Linked DNA regions of Homo sapiens. The protein of the gene in region 1 purifies or fractionates together with the protein of each later gene. This does not show direct contact. Each region holds a gene or a part of one and is shown in the gene's direction. Other genes may lie near its edges.

Region 1 (3,500 bases):
ATTGAGTACTAAATGACTGACACCATTGCTTGGATTGTTTTTAAGTTCTGTATCCACTGTAGAAATGCCCACTGTAAAATCGTAAGTCCCAGCAGGAGTAAAATGGTCTGAGCCCTCATTGAAATGTGTCTGATACAACCGAAATATAAAGGGACTCAATGCTATGTGTGTTTATTATTGTAGGAGTCTTATAAAAGCTATGGAGTTGCTTTCCATGTTGCAGATAATGTATATTAGAAAAAAAGGAAATGATGAAAGCAGTATATTAAACTGAAAAACTTTTATATTTAACTTTGGTGTAGAAATTTCACCTGTCTAATTTTTTAGGCTTTATAATGAAAATATACTTGGGAGAAATGTGTCTTTAACATTAGAGGAAAATGGAGAACAAGAAAGTGTAATTATATGGATAGTTCACTTAAGTGTAAATCAAAATTTGATTGTTACTAAAGGATGGATAAATTATGCTTTAGAAGGGCCAACATGGATAGTACGTTGGATTCTAGATTAAATTGTTATTAAAGTCTAATTTGAACTACAGAAACAGACATCGTCTGGCTATTATTTTAAAAAATATTTTATTTCCTTTCCATACTTTATTTCCACATTAAGATGTTCCTAACTCCTATTCATTTGGAATATAACCTATACCAGAACAATTTTGTTATATAACAAGTTTATAGTCCCATTTAACGCTTTACTTAAACAGCGTTTATTTTAGTATTTTAGTTCATCCCTGTTCTGTTGTACTTTTAACAATGAAATTAAATATATCCTTTGTGACTTGTTTAGTTTTTAATTAGTCTCACTCGGGGTTACCTTCAGGAGACCATTACACTGGCAGCTCTTGTTGCCTTGTTGCCTTTTGACATCTGCTTTCATTAAAGTCAGTGCATTTTCTTGCCTGTGTCTTCCTGCAAGGACACTGATGTTAATCATGCCAAATTGGATCCATTTCTGAGGTCTGCTGCAGGAAGCAAAATACTGAAATTATCATAAAAGTAAACCATTATTCTTCAGTTGTTAGAGCACATCATCAGAACATAAAATTGAAAACAGAATTTCTATAGTCCAATAGCTTATGACTTTTGTGCCGTATGTATTTCAAACATTTCTTGCACAGACCTAACCAGCAGACAGAATAATGACTCTTTAAAAACGAAAGAATAAGTCCTTGGCCTGTGGCCAGAAGTAGCGAAAGTGTGTTTCTGTGCCATCCTGCCCTGCATGGCTCAGGTTTCTGGAGTCAGCTCTACTTTAAGTGATTGCTGGCATCATATTCTGGTTAGCCCTAAATGGAGCTTTCCTATTAAAATACATGACTGCTGAGGTCTAAAGTACATTGAATATTCTTATTGATCAACTTGAAGAAAAAATGTTAGTATAGAAATGTCATCTATTATGGAGTTGGCCAATTGAATATTGACTATGTTTTAATGTGGTGTGAGGTTTATTTTCTCCCATTTTTTCCACAGGTATAATAAAGTGGTTTAAAAAGATAAATAAAAAAAATTATTTCTATGGTAGGCATGCTTTTGACTAGTTGTCCCTAATTATTGCAAGCTCATTCTTTGTGTTCAAAGGTTTAATTTTATATATTCCAGACGATTCAGAGAGATTAGCCACAGCTTATTTAAACAAAGAAGACACACACAAAACAAAGCGATAGTTTTTTTTTGTTTTTGTTTTTTTTTCAGAAAGAATTCAGTTGCTTACTTTTCTTAAAAACATCTTTCCCATTTCATTGAGGCAGATTTGGAAGTCAAACCAGAAACTTCAGGCTCTACTACGATGGCAAGCACTTTGTTGGGGAGAAACGCTTTGAGTCCATCCACGATCTGGTGACTGATGGCTTGATTACTCTCTATATTGAAACCAAGGCAGCAGAATACATTGCCAAGATGACGATAAACCCAATTTATGAGCACGTAGGATACACAACCTTAAACAGAGAGCCAGCATACAAAAAACATATGCCAGTCCTGAAAGAGACACATGATGAGAGAGATTCTACAGGCCAGGATGGGGTGTCAGAGAAAAGGGTAAGCTACTATGAAACCACACTTTATCTTTTTCTGTTTGGGGTTCTTTTAAGAAAGCCATTATTGCCAGAAGAGATTGATTTATCCACAGTGCTTTGGAAAGTATATTCATTTTTCTTAATGTCTAGTTTCTGTGATGCTGAGCTTTGCATATAACTAATTCTTGTTCTATTAAAATATGTTAGGTAAATTTTTATATTCCTGGTTGTTTTCTGTTTTATCAGTTTCACAATTTTAAAACTATGTTGGAAAAATGGCCCCTAATAAAAAATAGTTCAGGGGATTGGTCAGAAGCATAACTCCTGGTCAAGAAAAGATAGCTACTATTACGTAAGTAATTGAGGGGGTTGCATTATCTCTCAAAATTACTTTTTTGTTTTCCTTAAAGATAATTTACTTTATAAATAGTTGTGTTCTTAGCAAGATTTTATGTGTGTGTGTATATTATGTGTGTGTGTATGTATACACACACATTTTGGGAGTCAGTCATTCTTGAATAGGAGGAGGATTTATCTCTTTATAATCTGTTAAGAAGTAATTGAATGAGTAAGATTCACTTTTACTTTTCCTTAATTATAAAAGACAATTAATTCTAAAAGACAATTTAAGTTTTTTAGCTGTCATATTTTAGTTGTGATATATTTCAGGTTAACATAAAAGTTTTAATTTCTTGGCATTAAGATTATTTTACTTTTGAAAATTGCCACCAGCCTCCTCCTCACCCCCAAGAAAAAAGTAAGAGATTTTCCTGATGTTTTATAGTGTGTGACATTTAGTTGGGGGCATTTTAGGTATTGTAATTGGAACTGTGTCAATTCATTTTTATGTTTTTAAGAATCTTCAATTGCTAAACCAAAGAAATGCAATAGGTCTTGAGCTCGGATTCTATGCAAGATTTGTGTGCAAGTTGTAATACCTAATTTGTCTGTGCTTTTGATTGTCTTATTTGTAAAATTGTAATAATGGTCAAATTGCTGTGAGGAGTGAGTGAGATAGCAAGCGTAAAATGCTCCATCAGCACTTGGCACATGTAGACACTCAATGTAGTTTGGTGGTAATGTTATTATATAGCAGCCATCTGACCTCAAGGCAGCATCCTCAAATAACTTCCCATTACCTTAGAGTATTTGGGTACAGAATGGAAATAAGAAAGTTTGTGTCCAGCTCAAATTTTAGTTTTTGGCAGATCTTACATTGGCATTTTGTTGCTACGGAGAAAACAACATTTAAAAGGATAAGCTGTAGAAAATGTATAAAAATTGTTTTTTTATATATTCATATTGTTAGGAACCACAAATCTTGTTTGGAAGTAGCCAGAACTTAAAATCCTTAATACCTGCTGTATTTAATATTCTTTTCATGGTCTAGTTCCCATTTTCTGACTATTGGTTGATTTTCCATTTATGGCATTTTTTAGTAATGCTTGTATTTGAATAATACTGACATTATATTCTTTGC
Region 2 (3,500 bases), on another chromosome or scaffold:
TGAGTTTAAAATTATTTTCCTTCACAATTACGAAAATATTACCCTGACTTCTAGTTTCTAATGTTGCTCTTAAGATACCAATTTGCTTACTCCGGATCCTTTAGTATATGTTTTTTCTTTTTAGTTTCTTTCTATCCCTGATGATCTTATATTTCACAATAAAATATCTTTATGTGAGTCTTTTTTCAGTGTTTGAGTGATTGCAGCGGTCACACAACTGGCCCCGTTAAATCTGGAGCCTTGTGTTCAGTTCTGTGGGTGGCAGCACAGTAAGTCATTTGGCTGCTCAGGGTGAGGTTGTGGATATTGAGCATCTCCCTGCTCCTTTGCTTTCATCCTGGAAGTAGTAGTTAGTTCCTCTAATTTCTAAGTCTTTCTGAGGTTATTGTGATCAAATGGCTTGCTTCCCAGCAGTATCTTCCTCTGTAAGAAAATAGGTTCAGCTTTTTCTGCTCTATTTGGTGAATTACCACTCCTCCCTATTCTCTCCATCTGGCAAAATTTTGTAGATTTCATTCTGTCATGTTCTCTTATTGGCCTATCTGGCTTTAAACCTGTTTTATTTCATTATTATTAATGTAACAGAGTTTCTTTAGGGTACAGAGATTCATTCAACAAATATTGAGTGCCTTCTGGAATACAGGGTGCCTGCAGATACAGGGCGTGTGTGAGTGTGTATATGCGTATATATATGCACACATATTCACACCCCACCCCCCATGTAAGACATAGAGCTCATGCCTCATGTACCTAAGAGTCTAGTGGAGGACACAAGTAATAATAAATGAATAAATGACTAAAATATATTGTCACTTAATGATAAATGCTAGGGAAAAAAGTTAGAAGAGAGTGATAGCAGTTTTAAATAAGTGATCAGAAAATGTCTCAGAAGGGGTGGCAGTTTGAGCAAAAATAAAAATGTGAGTTTCATCTATTTAACTGGAAGTTGAAAGTTTATTTTTATTAATAAGAGGGTAAAAATAACTCAATATTATCTTGCTTTAAGTTCCATAGTTTTGTTTTCTCTTTCAAATCAGGAAGATTTAGTTTATTTTTGGAAGATTACATTGTACATATATAATAGTTTTAAAATATTGTCAAGGAATTCTTGGTCAAGGGAAAAGAAAAATAAAACCAGAAAATACTGGAAAAATATGACCCCTTCATATGAAATGTTAACTATCTTAAACTATCCTTACTAGTTTTTAGCTTTATCTTTTTGCTTTTCAACAGTCCTGGAGTTTTTTTATTTGTTTTTTTTTTTGTTTTTTGTTTTTGTTTTTGTTTTGAGACAGTCTTTCTCTGTCACCCAGGCTGGAGTACAGTGGCATGATCTCAGCTCACTGCAGCCTCCACCTCCCAGGTTCAAGCAGTTCTCCTGCCTCAGCCTCCTGGGTAGCTGGGATTACAGGCGACCACCACGACGCCTGGCTAATTTTTGTATTTTTAATCGAGACAGGGTTTCACTATCTTGCCCAGGCTGGTCTTGAACTCCTGACCTCGTGATCCACCCACCTCAGCCTCCCAAAGTGCTGGGATTACAGGCATGAGGCACTGTGCCCTGCCAATTTTTCCTTTCTAAGTGTTTCTTTGTTTTGTTTTGTTTTGTTTTAATAGAGACAGGGTCTTACTCTGTTGCCTAGGCTGGAGTACGGTGGCACAATCATAGCTCAGTGAAACCTCCAACTCCTAGTCTCAAGTGATCTACCTGCCTCAGCCTCCTGGCTAATTTTTTTTATTTTTTGTAGTGGCAGGGTCTCACTGTGTTGCCCAGGCTGGTCTCGAACTCCTGGCCTCAAGCAGTCCTTCTGCCTTGGCCTCGCAAAGCACTGGAATTACAGGCATGAACCATCTCACCTGGCCTGTTTCAAATTATTTTCTGAACCTCAATTAGTAACTTCTGGTAACTTTAATAAAATACTTTAAGGCAGGTTGTTTGAAGTAAATTGTTTTCATGAGAGATTAATATTTTCCATTTATTTCTTTTGAGATAGTACTTGAAATCTTGATTATCTGTAAAAGAATGGGAGGATTTTGATTTGTGCCTTCTTTGTTAGATTTGTAAGTGGGAATTTCAGATCATTTAGATCTGTAAAGGTTTATTTTGATTAAAGTGTTTATTGGATATATAATGTTGCTAATAGATTTTAAATGGCTTTATTTTAGGTCCTGAGGAGCGACAATTCAAGGGTTTAGGTGACTGTATTATGAAAATAGCAAAATCAGATGGAATTGCTGGTTTATACCAAGGGTTTGGTGTTTCAGTACAGGGCATCATTGTGTACCGAGCCTCTTATTTTGGAGCTTATGACACAGTTAAGGTAATCTGGGGGCTTTAACTTGGACATATTAAATATATGGTTTCCATTTATTTAATTAGTAATGTTTTCAGCAGATATGTTACTTTTAATTATAAAAATAAAAATCAGTGATGAAAAAAGAGAGACATGAAATTCTGCTTAATCATGATTTTGCCATAACCTAATTAAATTATAACTGCAGTATGGATCTGACTTTAGTTATAAAGCATGTATCTAAGTTTTTGAGGTGTTTTCACTGTACATCACATTGCAAATGAAAAACACGCTAATTAAGCTTACATCATAATCAAATCATTGGTATATGGAAAGGCATCTTCTAACAGTTTTTCTGATTTTATGTTAACCCTATTATCACTTTTTTATATTCAAATAATAAAATGTCATTTTGAGAAGGAGACAAAGCAAAATTAATTAAATAAATGCTACTGTAGCTTGGTTATCTACCGGATACTGTTAGATTCTGTGTTGTATTCTCCAGGTTGTTCTGCAATTTACCTTTTCATTTCAGATTTTAAGAACACTTCCATGTGGTAGGAAAAAGAAAAATTGTAACAATGGCTACCAATTTTTAGCTATTACCTAGTTCTAGGAAACTTTTTAAAGTACTTTACATCTTGAATCTCAGAAATCACTGGTAAAGAACTTACCCATGTAACCAAAACACTACCTGTTCCCCAAAAAACCTATTGAAATAAAAAGTAATAAGAAAATAAAGATAATTGTAGTTGTTTAAAATAAATAATAAAAAAATAAAATCCCCCCTTTGTTTAAAGATAAATAGCCTAGGAATTGTTAAGTAAATAGCCTAGGAATGGTTAAGTAATTTACTTGTTAAAGGCAAGCAAAAAAAAATCCATGTTCTTAATGACTACATTATAATGCTTCCAAAAGGAAGCAATGAAATTAATATCAGTATTATTTATTAGTATAATAAATAATTATACTATACTCCTTCATTAGTATAAATGTAGTTGCATGGCATTTTTATTGTTGTCTGGACAGATCAGTTTTTAGTGTATTTTTTAGACTGCTATGTTAATGAAAATTACAGGATCTTGTACATTTATTTAATCACAAAAAAAGTTATGTGTGTACTCTGTCTCTAGTTTGTTATCACCTGCAGTAGTTATGAAATTTAGGAACATTTCTCCACTAGTTTTAAAGCTGCCCATCAAATAT
Region 3 (3,500 bases), on another chromosome or scaffold:
TGATTTGGGGCAGGGGAGGGTATACATTAACACAAATTATATCAGTGTATAGTTTAAATTTCTCCTCCAAAGCCCATGTGGCAATTTAAATGCCATTGTAACAGCAATAGGAAGTGGGCCTAATGGGAGACTCTTAAATAAAATTCAGCAAGTTCTTCTTGAATAGTCGGTATAGCTAGTGATGAATATAGAATTTGCCTATGATAAAAGCATTAATAAAATTCAGCATAGTTACTGTGTGTATGTATATTATCGCCACTTACTGAAGATATTTATACCAAGTACTACAACAAGAATACTATTCACGCAATCTTACGCATACCTTGAAACAATCCTATTAAATATTATCATCCCCACTTTACACATGAGGAAACGCTTGCAGAAGACAGATAACATTTTGAACTCAAAGTTTTTGCCAAGTGAACATTTCTCAGTTCCCTGTTAATTCACAGTAAAATAGTTTCATTTCTAGTTGACAGTAAAATGAGCAAATTTACTCTCTGCACTTTTTAACAAAGACAAATTTCAGTTTTGTATTTTCGACTAGCAGAATGTTCCATGCTTGTTTGATGAAGCTTGTTATGACATCACCCCACTGAGGGTCTTGGGAATCCCTGATCAGGAATTTCCTCTATTATGAAAAACAGAGGGGACCATCTTGTTACTACATATCCTAGAAGATAATAATTTTCTGGCATTGTCCCAGACCTAATAGCTGCTTGGTGTTTTCAGGAAAATTATTGAACTCCAGAGTTGCAGGAAGTTTACTCATAATTTCAAAGTAGTATTTGATTTTGCAATTTAAAGGGCAATTAAACAAAGCTGAGACAATACTGCCTTTTGTAAGTGTAAATTTATTAAAGGAATTATCCCTCCAGGATGAGAGACATAGTTAAGAACTTTATGGTCCAGTGAGAATGTGGAACTTCGGGAACTGGGATAGTGTTTTAACAAAGAAAACATCTGAATATTATCTCAGGATAAAAGTAATGACCAAACCTTCAAAGTATAATACAATTTATCTGGAAGCCACCCTGGTTTTTTGTTTGTTTGTTTGGTTGGTTTTCTAAATTTGTTTTGTAGAGGCAAGGGTTTGCTATGTTGCCCAGGCTGGTCTCAAACTCTTGGGCTCAAGTGATCCTCCTGCCTCAGTCTCCAGCTACTAACCCAGGCTCTGGAAGCCACATTTTTGTCCACTTATTAAAATAGCATGAAGGGAGAGAAAAGTATAAACATAAATCTCCTTTAAAAAGTGTTTTTCTCTTGCGTATAATGAGAATCAGGTAAATAATTAGATTTTGCTAACTTTTGGCCACCAGCAAATTTAAAGCTAAACAAATTGTTTATGGTCTGCAAAACTGCATTCTAATTTTCCCCATCTAGATCTTCTATTGTAATTTTTTGTTGGATTCTAATTACTACTATTCATGTAATTATGTTTGTTTATATAAGCATCTTTAAACACTTTATGAAATATGACAGGGAATAAATTATAATTAAACCCAACTCCTGCCAAGGCCTCTGTTTAAGCAATTTATTTAACCAATTAATGGGAAAAAAAATTAACTGAGTAATATGATACATATTACAATTGCAAAAGAAAATTGATTCTAGCCTGTTAAGTACAGAAACATCAAGAGAATTACAAGCTGATCCATATATAAGCAGTAATGAATACTGATCCAACAAATTCTAGCTTCTAGCAAACCATATCTTTCCCCCTACAGCATAGTGACTATTCTATCTTTTATAAATTCAGACTACCACTTCTCAGGGACACAATGTACGACCAAAATGGCTATCCATATATATAGTTGCACTATTCTATTTGTTTCTAGGTAGTGTGTATCCATATATGTCTGCATTCTAATTTATAGTGCTACTTTTTTTTATCAAGATGAGTATGTTATAATGAAATTAATGGAGTTTGTAAGGAGCTTTCCAAATTTCTAAAACTGCCAAAAAGGATTTTTTTTTCACACCTTAAGTATTGTCTATAATGCACTTTTCTTTTCCTTCAGGGTGAATTGCTATGGCGTGGTAAGTGCCCAGTGCCCCTTTGGTGGATTCAAGATGTCTGGAAATGGAAGAGAACTGTAAGATTAACGTTCTATTAAGATAAATATTTATTTTTATGAAAATGATTTTCATTCCCAGGGAATTAACTCATAGTTTTCACCTTACATAAAACCTGCCTCTGTTCTTTCCTGGAGATTCATAGCACCAAATAGCTTATTAAATGTGGGATGTACTCCATAAGTGCAAAAGGTGATTGCAGAACAGCAACATAATTTACTAAATTCCTACTATATTTTAGGGACTATATTAAGCAACTTACATTGGTGATTGTAATACTGCTTGCTTTTAGAATTGCTTGCTATATATATGAATGTAATCCATTTGGGAAACATTTCCAGAAAAGAGGTGGAAACTATGCATTGGTGATTGCAAGAAAGGTGCAAATGTAAACACTCTAGTTATTTGAATAAACCATTTAAATAAGTAAATTAGGTGACTTATGTAAAGGAAATTTCAGTGTAAGAGGAATGATTCCCATTTGTTGAGATATTATTGATGTAGACTTTAACATTTTTTATTACCATAAGAAGTTATTTTTAGTATTAAAACTTAAACCTAAAAGGAAATTTGAGGAAAACATGTTTTATAGTAGTGACTAGATTAAGAATATTTATATATAAATGCATTTATGAAATTTCAATTGCTTTTGAAACTAGGGTATATAGACTTTTTAAGTATGCACATATATATGTAAATACAGAAAGTAGTGGCAATATGCTTAGTTGATTTTGTTTAGGCAAGTTTAGTCATTTTATTTCTTAAAACTTTTTTACATGTATTAATGTAAACATTTATGAAGAAAAAAGAAATAGAAACCTTATAGTATCAAACACAGATCGTAAACTTGCTCATTTTGTAATTAGGAAGTGAAAATGTGCCTTTCTCAATCTCTAAATGTATTAAATGGTTGAGTACCGTACTCTAACAAATCAGCAAAATTACAAGGAAACAAATATCTCTGAAGAGTCAGTGAAATGGGAGAATTATAAAATGACCAGTCTACTTTCTCAATATGCTTTCATTTATTAAGCACTTGCTATGTGTAAGGTCCTAGGAACCCCAGAGACATGACACCATGTTCCATGCTCTACATAGCTGTGGTGGCAGGACATGCAAAATAACCTACATACACTATGAAATAAGTAGTAATACACTGGGATTCCATATCCTATGGAGGTAGAGAAGCAATTAAAGTACCGAGCAAAGTATTGAAGAAAACCTAGACACTACCAGAGTATAAGAGTCAGGATGGCATCTCTCTAACCATCACTATTTTCATCTGTCAGACAAGGCCAAGGATTGTGAGTGTGGATAAGAGTGGAAGAAGAAAATAGATCTTTTAACCTCTATTCCATGCTTAAGATTCTATAGTTCTGACCCCACTGGAAATCCAGTGGTTGAAAACTTAATGGCAGTTTATA
Region 4 (3,500 bases), about 67 Mb from region 1:
AGAGTCCTCCCTCCCTCCCTGGGATCTTCCCTTCCTGGGATCTTCCCTCATTCCCTGGGATCTTCCCTTCCTAGGATCTTCCCTCCCTCTCTGGCATCTTCCCTCCCTGTGGTCCTCCCTCCCTGGGATCCTCCTTTCCTAGGATCTTCCCTTCCTAGAGTCCTCCCTCCCTCCCTGGGATCTTCCCTCCATCGGCTTCTCCCTCCCTCCCTGAGGTCCTCCCTCACTCCCTGTGATCTCCCCTTCCTGGGATCTTCCCTCCCTGGGGTCCTCCTTCCCTAGGATCTTCCCTTCCTGGAGTCCTCCCTTGCTCCCTGTAGTCCTCTCTCCCTGGGATATTCCCTCCCTGGAGTCCTCCCTCCCTGAGGTCCTCCCTCACTCCCTGTGATCTTCCCTTCCTGGGATCTCCCTCCCTGGGGTCCTCCTTCCCTAGGATCTTCCCTTCCTGGGGTCCTCCTTTGCTCCCTGTGGTCCTCCCTCCCTGGGATTTTCCCTCCCCATGGTCTTCCTCCCCCAGGGCCCTCCCCCAGTAGGGTCCTCCTTCCCTGAGATCCTCTCTCCCTGGGGTCCTCCCTCCCTGGAGTCCTTCCTCCCCCAGTGGGGTCCTCCCTCCCTGGGGTCCTCTTTCCCTGTTCTTTCTTCAAGGGTCTTATCCCTCTGCACTGCCTCCTCCTGACAATGAGCGCCAAAACCCTCAGGCAGGTGTTTGTAAAATTTAATTCCACTTCTCAGGCCCTCAGCAAGAAGAGGTCAGTTTGAATTAGCTCATCTGCCACCACCGGAAGCAGACCCCATTTGTTTTAAAGTATACTTTTAAAAATTACACCTTTATTATAGAAAAAAATAATTGAAAGTATAAGACAGAAATCACTCATCACTGGCCAGTTGCTGTGGCTCACGCCTGTAATGCCAGCACTTTAGGAGGTCAAGATGGTAGGATCGCTTGAAGCTGAGAGTTTGAGACCTGCCTGGGGAACATGGCGAAGCCAAATCTCCAAAAATCTTTTTTTTTTTTTTTTTTTTTTAATTAGCTGAGCAAAAGTGGTGTGTGCCTGTAGTCCCAGCTACTTGGGAGGCTGAGATGGGAGAATCACTTAAGCCCAGGAGGTCAAGGCTGTAGTGAGCCGTGATCGTACCACTGCACTCCAGCCCCAGTGACAGAGTGAGACCTCGTCTCAAAAAAAAAAAAAAAAAAAAAAAAAACACAGAGAAAAGAAACAAGAAAAAGAACTCTATCATCGTACCCACTCAGCAGTGATGGCTGCAGGCATCTGCTGCATGGTTGCCATCACCCACGGGCTGTTTTGTCAGGACACTGGTTTTCCTTTCCTTTCATGGCAGCCCCAGTTCACTTAACTAGTCACCTGTCACTGGACGCTTGGCTGTGGCTGGTTGTTGAGGACTGTAACATTGTTGGATCTCTGTCTTTCTGCACATCCTTAATTATGTCCTTCAGATCAATTCCAAAATGTAGATTTGTCTGAGCAAAGGTGTTTACGGCCTTGGGCACTCCTGCTAAATTGCTGTTGGAGCACCTGCGCCAGCTGACCTTCCCACCTGCAGGAGCTAGGTCTAAACATGCATCTTTCCCTCCACCATGGAAAGTGCTAGGCACCTGTCTCTCTTACTCTTCCCAAGTGGGTAAGGTAAGCAGCCCCATCGAGCAGCCCCATCATTTCACTTTGCATCCCTGCGGACTGTCGGTGAGGCCAGCCTGGCCCCTGTGTCCTGGCATTCCATGCTTTTCCTCTCAGGAATCACTCAGCGTGCTGGTCACTCTGGTCTCCATTGGTCTGTGAGTTTTTTGTACACATTAGTGAAATGTTTATATGATAATGCTCACCAACACTATTAAGTCACAAATTATTTTCTCAGTAACTGCTTTTTACTTTGCCTACAATTTAGTTTTACCTTGTAGAATTTAAACTCCATCTTGATGGGTTCTGTTTCTCTTACTCTAGAATGGCATCTGGCACATATAGGGAACCCAGCAAATGCTTGTTGAAGGTGTGAATTGAAACAGACACTCCTCAACTTATGATGGGGCTATGCCCTGATAAACCCATTGTAAGAGGAAAATAGTATAGTCAAAAATGCATTTAACAGGGCACGGTGGCTCACGTCTGTAATCCCAGCACTTTGGGAGGCTGAGGTGGGTGAATCACCTAAGGTCAGGAGTTTAAGACCAGCCTGGCCAACAGGGCGAAACCCTGTCTCTACTAAAAATACAAAAATTAGCCAGGCGTGGTGGTGGGCACCTGTAGTCCCAACTACTCGGGAGGCTAAGCACAAGAATCACTTGAACCTGGGAGGCGGAGGTTGCACTGAGCCGAGATCACACCACTGCACTCCAGCCTGGGTGACAGAACAAGACTCCCTCTCAAAAAAAAAAAAAAGAAAGAAAAGAAAATGCATTTAATACACTTAACCTCTCTGATGTCATAGCTTAGCCTAGCCTACTCTTTTTTTTTTTTTTTTTTTTTGAGATGGAATCGCTCTGTCGCCCAGGCTGGAGTGCAGTGGTGCCATCTTGGCTCTCTGCAAGCTCCACCTCCCGGGTTCACGCCATTCTCCTACCTCAGCTTCCTGAGTAGCTGGGACTACAGGCGCCCGCCACCACGCCTGGCTAATTTTTTGTATTTTTTAGTAGAGACGGGGTTTCACCGTGTTAGGCAGGATGGTCTCGATCTCCTGACCTCGTGATCCACCCGCCTCGGCCTCCCAAAGTGCTGGGATTACAGGCGTGAGCCAGCCTAGCCTACTCTAAATGTGCTCAGAACATACATTAGCTTACAGTTGGGCAAAATCATCTAATATGAAGCCTATTTTATAACAAAGTGTTGAATATCTCACATAATTTGTTGAATACCAAACTGGAAGTGAAAAACAGAATGGTCGTATGGGCACTTGAAGTTCCGTTTCTACTGAATGCTTATCACTTTCACACCATCATAAAGTTGAAAAATCAGGGCCTATCAGGGTCAGCTCTGGCTGTCTTTTCCTTGAGGGTTTCTATCCTTAGTATGGGCTCAGGAAGTTCTTCCCCATGCCAATATTATATTGGCACCTTTTAATGGTTTCAGTTTTCTCATTTAATTAATCTCCCTAGAATTTGTTTTTTTACTTTTTTGGTTTTTTTTTTTTTTTTTTTAGATGGAGTCTTGCTCTGTGTCCCAGGCTGGAGTGCCCAGGCACGATCTCGGCTCACTGCAAACTCCGCCTCCTGGGTTCACACCATTCTCCTGCCTCAGCCTCCCAAGTAGCTGGGACTACAGGTGGCTAATTTTTTGTATTTTTAGTAGAGACGGGGTTTCACCGTGTTAGCCAGGATGGTCTCGATCTCCTGACCTTGTGATCCGCCCGCCTCGGCCTCCCAAAGTGCTGGGATTACAGGTGTGAGCCACCGTGCCTGGCCTAGAATTTGTTTTGATAGATATTAGATTGAGATGTAACATTTCTCCCCATTATTTGTTGAATCCTTCATTTTCTCACTGATCTCA
Region 5 (3,500 bases), on another chromosome or scaffold:
TGGGGAAGTTAGGAATGAGTTACATGAACACTGGGGGCCAGGGGAGCTTCCAGATAGAGGGAACAGTAAGTGAAGACACCCCTGTTTCAAATAGGAGGCAGGCCGCATGGCTGGTACAGAGTGAGCATGGGAGGGTAAGGGGATAACAGCAGAGAGTTAGAAGGGCAGGGCCTGGAGAGGCCATCATAAGACCTGAACTTCTCTGCCAAGTGCACCAAGAAACCCAGGTGGAGGGGCCAGGAAGGCATCTGGGCATGGGCGTCTCAAGATTAGGTCTGAGCTAAAGATGGAAATTTGGGGGTCAGCACAAGTGTAGAAAAAAAGGCTAAGAGTTTGTAAGATGGCGCCTTAGGGCATCAAGTGTTCAAGTAAAGGAGACCGTGTGGCTCAGTGAGGTGAGAGGAGAACCCCATGGTCTCAGAAGCTGAGTGAAGACAGCATTTCAGGCTGTCCCAGGAGTGGGAAGCTGTTCAAGAGGAGCTGATGGCTCAGTGCACATCATATTTGTACATTTCTTCCAGGAAAGAGAAATTGAAGATGCAGATGCAGGAGGGAAAGAGAATTGCAGGAGGAGGGTCCCGAGTACTGAGGGGGTCTCTCGCCCGCACTCCGTGCCTATTGACAGGAGAGCAAGTAGCATATGGGTGCAGATGCCTGTGTGCGTGGGTTCGGTGGGCGGGGGGGGGGGGGGACTTTGGCAAAGACTTCTTCCTGTTTTCTCTTCTTAGTGATGAAATAGGAAGCCCCTGAGATGGCGGGGCTGGAGGTGAGGGTGCGGGTGGGCAGACAAGAGGAGATAAAGCAGTTCAGTCGTCGAAAGGTGTGGTGGAGTGACTCCCTGCACTGTATTAGAGCAGTGATTCTCAAGGAGTGGGCCAGGGTTTGGGGTCCCCAAGATTGTTTCAGGTGTTGTGTGAGGTTAGAGCTATCTTCATGATGTATTAAGAAGGTTTTTCATCTTTTCCACTGTCATTCCCTCACAAGTAGACAGTGGAGCTTCCCAAGGTGTGATCTTTCAGCAGCAAGCATAACAAATGCTTGAGAATCCCGTTGTCTTTTAAGCAGGACGTTGCAGAATTGTTAAAACAATGCCATTGTTGTCACTGGATTTTGTTTTGTTTTGTTTTCGGAAGTATAGTGATTTTTTTGGTAAAGGTATTTGTGTTAACGTGTAATTGATTTATTATTTTTGAGTGAATATTTAAAATTTTTAAATCTCAGTAGATATTACGCGTATAAACAAAAGTTCTTTGGAGTCTTCAGTAACTTTTTAGCGTAAAGGAGTTCTGAAACCAAACAGTTTAAGAACTGCTGGACTACAGAAATATGATATGACTAGCATTGTTATGGGTCTCAAAGGAGAATTTGACTAGAAATCAGAAGAGAACAGTTGAAAAGTAGCTGGTTTTGAACCTGACAAAATAGTGGCTCCATTAATTGACTAGGGAAGTGAGGGGATGGAGATGGGTTTTCAGAATGCAGATTTGGGAATGGTGTGCTGGGATGTGCTGGTGAGCTGCCCACAGCATCGGAGCCAGGTTGGGAGGCATCCACTAAGAACACGTGATTGAACACATAGGAATGGGGATGGTGGGGACAGGGAGGTGGGAGTGTAGAATAGGAGTGGGGAGCAAAAACCGAGTGGTGGGAGTGACCACATTTAGAGGGTGGAATAAAGGAGCAATTGTCAGGGAAGACCCAGACACAGGCGGGGAGGATCCATGGGGTTGGATGCTGCAGCGGGCGAGTTTGACCTTCTGTCTCTGCGAGATACATCCCTAGTTGGTCTCCAGTTCCATTAGCAATTTATTGCCACTTAGAAAACACAAGATGTAGATTTATTAACTTGAATTTTAAAGAAGCAAGTAGCAGTTAAGTGAAAAAATATGTAAACACCTTAATAGTGGCTGTGACAGCTTATTATGGCTATTAGGTAGATTAAATCATCTGCCTCAGCCCTAAAGTTGGCCTTAAAGTTGTTGATGAAACATGTTTTGTTTTCCTTGTGGCATATTACTGTTAGCTTTAGCAGGCTTATTTCAACTGGTTATTGTAAACGCTGCTTACTAGAGACATTTCTCTTGTTTCTTTCAGTAACTTGGATCCACTTACAGAAACTGTATCCTTTTTTACAAAAAAAAAAAAGTTGAATGAAGATTTACTGAGAATAAAGAAAACAGAAATGAAAGGAAAACAGAGGAGTACTGAAAAGTTTAAAAACTTGTAGGTCAGGAAACATCATAAGCAACACTGAAAGCAATTTTAAAAAGTGAAACTGAGAACAAGAGTTGTCTTAGATCTGCTGACAAACTGTTAATATCATGACTTGGTAGAAATCTGTAACATCATAGCTCCCCTGCCAACCTTGCCCCTCAGGAGTCAGCATGGCTGTATTCACCAGAAAGCACAGTGACTTCAGCAAGGTGGCTGCATAGTCTCCAGTGTGAACAAAGTCTGGAGATAAGCAGTCCCAGGCAGGTGATGCTTCCATGAAGACACCAACAGCCAGGCTCTTTGCAGTTTAAGCACTCTACCCCTCCCAGGGTGGCCGTAACCTTGTTCCAGATGTTGCCACAGCAAACAGCATCACAGCCATGTTTCCGGCAGCAGAAACAGCAGAGGGGGAGGTGAGGGTGTTCTTCCCTTTTAAGAGTACCTTTGGGCCTGTACTCCCAGCACTTTGGGGGGCCAAGGCAGGCAGATCACGAGGTCAGGCGTTCAAGACCAGCCTGGCCAACATGGTGAAACCCCGTCCGTCTCTAGTAAAAATACAAGAACTAGCCAGCCGTGGTGGCTCACTCCGTAATCCCAGCTACTTAGGAGGCTGAGGCAGGAGAATCGCTTGAACCAGGACCCGGGAGGCAGAGGTTGCAGTGAGCCGAGGTTGCAGTGAGCCGAGATCGCGCCACTGCACTCCAGCCTGGGCTACATGTAGAGCGAGACTCCGTCTCAAAAAAAAAAAAAAAAGGAGAGTACCTTTGGGAAATGCCACACAGGCCCGCTCTGTCTCATTGACCAGCACCTGTTTCATGCTTCACCTGTCTACTGAATCCTATCTAGAGTCCAGAAATGTGCCCTGCTTTATAAATTGGGACTTGTTACTAAAGTGAAGGCTTTGAGGTAACAATGAACAGTGTCTATTATTGTCCTAATGGAAAAATGGGGCAAAGATGTGAAGATAGGATACTGTGGTTATGCTGCTGTAACAGATAACCCCACATCTCTAGTGGCTTACAACACAAAGTTCGGATTCTGTGTTATGCTCTGTATCTACTGTAGGTGGGTAGGAGGGTTCTGCTAACCGGTAATTTATCAAAAGAGGGCATATAGGAGCTTAATGAACGTGTTAAGAGTTCAGTCTCATCAGTCAAAAGACATGTAAACTAAAACCAAAATGAGATGCCATATTTTATGTATCAGCCAAGATTTTAAAAAATGATAAACCTCAGTGCTGATGATGGTGAGGTGAGAGGAACATTCTCATAAATTGCTAGTGACAA
Region 6 (3,956 bases), on another chromosome or scaffold:
GGGAACCCACGAATGAACGCTGGTGCTGGTGGGCCCGTGAGGAGAGTCATAGATTCACTGAATCGATTTGGACTTGGTAGAACCTTGGGGTCACCCTAACCCCCTTTTTACAGATGAGGAATCTGAGGCCCAGAAAGATGAGGTAACCTGCCCAAAGTCCAGAAGCGACGTAGCGCCAGGACTACAAAGGAGCAAACACAGTGCCAGGGGAAGGGGATCTAAGGAGCTGCGGAATTGAACAGCAGGATGTGCACTGCCATGTGGTTCTCCCCTTACAATGGGACGTTTCCTTCTGTTCTCGTCACACCCCAGCCCAGGTCCTGATCACTCCACGGGTCATTATCCCAACAGCATCCCTTCCTCCTCTTCTTGCCTCCCAAGCTACCCAAGATTCCAAAGCCAGATCAATAGTCATCAAACATTGCTTTAACTCACTCCTTTCCAGTTAAAAGCTTTCAAAGAACTAATTCATTTGGACTTTGTCCTATAGGTAGGGCTCTTCGGGGGGGCAGGGGGCAGCGGGGCGGGCACTGGGTCCCACGCCGAGAGGATTTCGTGCCAAGCCACGCACACGGTGCAGCAGGAGCCGGGTCCGCCTCCTCAGCCCCCAGCCCGGCCCCAGACACACCAGCTATCACACCGACCCTGGTCAAATAAACCAATGGGCACGTGGTCGGCCTGCAGAACAGAACCCAAGCGAGCATATGCCAGGAACCTGCCTTCCCGCCAGCCGCTCAAAACCCCACCCGCTGGCCCCGCGCCGCCTCAGACCGGATCCAGCTGGATTCCTCAGGGCGACGCAATCGCCTAACAGAATTCTACCTCTTTCTCAGGCCGCAGCCAATGGCGCGGCCCCTCGGATCCGGAGCCGCCGCGGGCTCTGATTGGCCGATAGAGTTAGCCTGGGGGCGGGAGAAGAGCGACCTCGGGGAAGCGTGTGGTGCGGGGAGGTCGCCCCCGGGCGGCGAAGCAGCCATTATGCAGGCGTGAGTGAAACGAATAAACAAACAAACAAAACCCACTAGCTGGGGCCTCCATTTCTTCCCCGCCCACCTTTCTCCCGCGTGGGGTCTCCCGTTTCCCAATCGCCACGCTTTCCCCGCCTTCGTCAACGCCTGGGTACGTCCCCCTAGCCGCGTGGGCCACGCACGTCCTGGCACTTAACCTCTGCCCGTCCGGCGCGAAGTTAGAGGCCCGGGCGGCGCGGACGGCGCGCACTCCCGGCGGTAGGGAGCTGAGGCAAGGGGCCCGAGCCCAAGCCCGCGGCCGCGGCCCGGCCCACGATGACTTGCTACCGAGGCTTCTTGCTGGGCAGCTGTTGTCGCGTGGCGGGCGGCCGGGCGGCGGCGCTGCGGGGACCGGGTGCGGGAGGCCCCGCCGCGCGGCCCCGGCTGGGCGGTGACGGTGGCGGCCGGCGGCACCTGGGGCAGGGGCAGCCGCGCGAGCTGGCGGGCTGTGGCAGCCGCGCGGACGGCGGCTTCCGCCCCTCCCGGGTGGTGGTGGTGGCCAAAACCACCCGGTACGAGTTCGAGCAGCAGCGGTACCGTTACGCGGAGCTCTCGGAGGAGGACCTGAAGCAGCTGGTGGGTCCTGGCTCGGCCCCGCTTCGCTCCCGGGCTCGGCCGGGGCTCTGGTGGCGGCTGCGCCCCCTCGGGGGGACCTCTCGGGACGACTCTTCCCAGGGCACCGCAGATGCCGGTCCTGCCTCTCTCGCGGCCCCCAGGTCCTCTGGCTTCTCCCTGGGCCTCCTTTGCCTTTGGGCGTGTGTGCGAGGGAGAGGCAGGGCCGGGGAGAGGGGGAGAGAGAGGGACAGTGGTTCATGCAGGGACTTAGGAGGCAGGGGCGCCGCGGGGAGGGCGAAGAGGGGCTGCCGAGTGGCCTCAGAGTGAGGGGTTTGAGGATTCGTTGGTGCCCTCGCCGCCCCCGCCCTCGTTCCCTGGTTGGGACCCACTCCAAGAAAGTGAGCCAGTGGCCTGAGGTCTGGACGCCCTGCGAACAGCTCCCCTGGCCGCCGCGAGAAAGGGGGCCCAGGGCGCCGCTGAGGGCTGCCGGGGGAAAAGGGCCGAAACAACCGCGGACACACCCCCTTTTACTCTGCAGGACTGCGAGGCCTAGGGCACTCCGGAAAGTCCTTCAGCGTGAGCCTTTTCCTTGCTGGAACGTGGTCGTTGGACACTACGAGCTTGTTTTAAAAGCACAGGTCTTTGGTGCTAAGAAGGAAAAGGGAGAAAATTTGACTTGTATATGTACGTTATTAAGGAGAAATGTCAGGACAAGGGGCTGGTATACTGGGTAGTGTGTGAAATAAAAAAGCCTGCGACTCTTGTGCAGCAGTATCTCCACAATATACCATATTTGATATGTTTATTAATATATCTGCAAAGATACAAATCCAAGGGAAAAACCAGAGTTTGAATCTTCCTGTTGTCATCCCCCCCCACCAACTTTAAAAACAGTTTCTGATCCCATACCACCATCCACCAACTTTAGGAAAAGGAGAGTGCCCGGTGCTACCATGAGCAGTATGTCCAGAAAAATATATTGGAAATCTCTTAATTGTTGGCACTGTGCACCAAAAGGTTTTGGAATTAATTGCACATAACTGATTTAGTTTAATTCTGTGCAAGACTAGACAACCTGTTGGAAACTTCTGGTATCGTGTGATCTTAGCGAAGTTATTTTGTAGAGGCATCAAAATGAAATTGTAAATCATCTTTGCTTAAGTGCTGAATCTGTTGTCAACATTAAACATCCTGCTTCTTTGTTGGGTTTACTGAAGAGGGCTCCTGCATTCACCTGATGGGAGTCTAGATGTGTAGATTTGTTTTCTTTTTCCTAAGTGTTTGAAAATGACTGTTTATAGAATACACTTGCATCATTTAAAGAATAAAGGGTTTGAACAGGAGGTTAGAGTAGTTGAGTTTGTATTAGGGAGTGAAACTAGAGGTGAGATAGGGACTAGTAATGTTCTAAGAAAGCACAGTGTTACTATTTGGGGAAAGTGGTGTGCCCTTTGGGTTGTACTAATTTTGCAAAGTCTAGCTTGTAGGATTTGTCAAATGCCATGTATGCATAAATATGTGCATACAGTTTTATCGAAGCTTCCCACAACAATTTAAAATAGCTCACTTGGCATGTTCAGAGTGTGGGATTAAGAGTGAAGAGCTCAGTTCTAGGCCCTGGTTCTGTGTGGTTAACTTCCTATGTGTGTTCTTCTCTGGGCCTCATAGGTGGAAATGATACTTTTTGTATAGTAGTGTCAGTTTTCAAAGTGCTTCACCTAATTCAGTATGTGAATTGCAGAGGTAGTACCAGATAGCCTCCAAGGCCCTTTACAGTACTGGCATTTTGAAACTGTGGATAACGTTTTCAAGGCCTCAAGAAAATGGGTGGCATCTCAGTTAGGATTAACTCTTGGACCTCTGAACTAGATTACCACTTAATAAAAAAACTTTTAAAATGTAGGGAAAATCAATAAGTCTTAAAAAGTCAAACTACCTAAGTGTACCCGTTCTGAGTGGAGAAATCTCTAATAGGTAAATATTTGTCTATTGCTAGGTAATGCTGTTTGGGATAAGCCAGCTTTGAAGTAAAACTCGTGGGCTGTAGAATACACAGTTTTGTAATTGCCAGGCAGTGGAATAGTTTTTGTTGGTGGTGTTGTCATTACAGTTTTATTGGATAAGTTCCTTACTGATTTGAATTTGTGTTATAGTTTATATAAAGGCCCATACTCAGAATGCAATAGCATTAGTTGTAGACCAGATGAGAGATTATTAACAGGCCAAAGAATACTGGGCTGTGTGAAGCTGTCCTAAAATGGGATTCTGTAATAGGAGTGATAAGATGATAAGTATTATTTGTTATATTGCTGGGGTAGAAAATACTAAGTTATGTGAATCATGTGAATTGGATGGATATAAAAGAAAGTGGCCAAGTGCTTGAGTCTCACCATG

Evidence for each region.
Region 2: the proteins of CHN1 (region 1) and SLC25A31 purify together in Homo sapiens (affinity purification with mass spectrometry; one large-scale study listed by BioGRID and IntAct). This does not show direct contact.
Region 3: the proteins of CHN1 (region 1) and ALDH1A1 purify together in Homo sapiens (affinity purification with mass spectrometry; one large-scale study listed by BioGRID and IntAct). This does not show direct contact.
Region 4: the proteins of CHN1 (region 1) and FARP2 purify together in Homo sapiens (affinity purification with mass spectrometry; one large-scale study listed by BioGRID and IntAct). This does not show direct contact.
Region 5: the proteins of CHN1 (region 1) and NAA20 fractionate together in Homo sapiens (co-fractionation; one large-scale study listed by BioGRID). This does not show direct contact.
Region 6: the proteins of CHN1 (region 1) and NADK2 fractionate together in Homo sapiens (co-fractionation; one large-scale study listed by BioGRID). This does not show direct contact.

Annotation. Positions count from the first base shown.
Region 1 is NC_000002.12:174,876,382-174,879,881, reverse strand, and holds part of CHN1 (N-chimaerin), read left to right. Parts: intron 1-1,753; coding exon 1,754-2,042; intron 2,043-3,500. UniProt on the Homo sapiens protein: GTPase-activating protein for p21-rac and a phorbol ester receptor. Involved in the assembly of neuronal locomotor circuits as a direct effector of EPHA4 in axon guidance.
Region 2 is NC_000004.12:127,764,900-127,768,399, forward strand, and holds part of SLC25A31 (ADP/ATP translocase 4), read left to right. Parts: intron 1-2,166; coding exon 2,167-2,321; intron 2,322-3,500. UniProt on the Homo sapiens protein: ADP:ATP antiporter that mediates import of ADP into the mitochondrial matrix for ATP synthesis, and export of ATP out to fuel the cell.
Region 3 is NC_000009.12:72,904,554-72,908,053, reverse strand, and holds part of ALDH1A1 (aldehyde dehydrogenase 1A1), read left to right. Parts: intron 1-2,021; coding exon 2,022-2,096; intron 2,097-3,500. UniProt on the Homo sapiens protein: Cytosolic dehydrogenase that catalyzes the irreversible oxidation of a wide range of aldehydes to their corresponding carboxylic acid.
Region 4 is NC_000002.12:241,485,285-241,488,784, forward strand, and holds part of FARP2 (FERM, ARHGEF and pleckstrin domain-containing protein 2), read left to right. Parts: intron 1-3,500. UniProt on the Homo sapiens protein: Functions as a guanine nucleotide exchange factor that activates RAC1. May have relatively low activity. Plays a role in the response to class 3 semaphorins and remodeling of the actin cytoskeleton.
Region 5 is NC_000020.11:20,020,362-20,023,861, forward strand, and holds part of NAA20 (N-alpha-acetyltransferase 20), read left to right. Parts: intron 1-2,094; coding exon 2,095-2,119; intron 2,120-3,500. UniProt on the Homo sapiens protein: Catalytic subunit of the NatB complex which catalyzes acetylation of the N-terminal methionine residues of peptides beginning with Met-Asp, Met-Glu, Met-Asn and Met-Gln. Proteins with cell cycle functions are overrepresented in the pool of NatB substrates.
Region 6 is NC_000005.10:36,239,126-36,243,081, reverse strand, and holds the start of NADK2 (NAD kinase 2, mitochondrial), read left to right. Parts: upstream 1-1,156; 5' UTR 1,157-1,283; coding exon 1,284-1,583; intron 1,584-1,690; exon of another isoform or gene 1,691-1,723; intron 1,724-2,226; exon of another isoform or gene 2,227-2,246; intron 2,247-3,956. UniProt on the Homo sapiens protein: Mitochondrial NAD(+) kinase that phosphorylates NAD(+) to yield NADP(+). Can use both ATP or inorganic polyphosphate as the phosphoryl donor.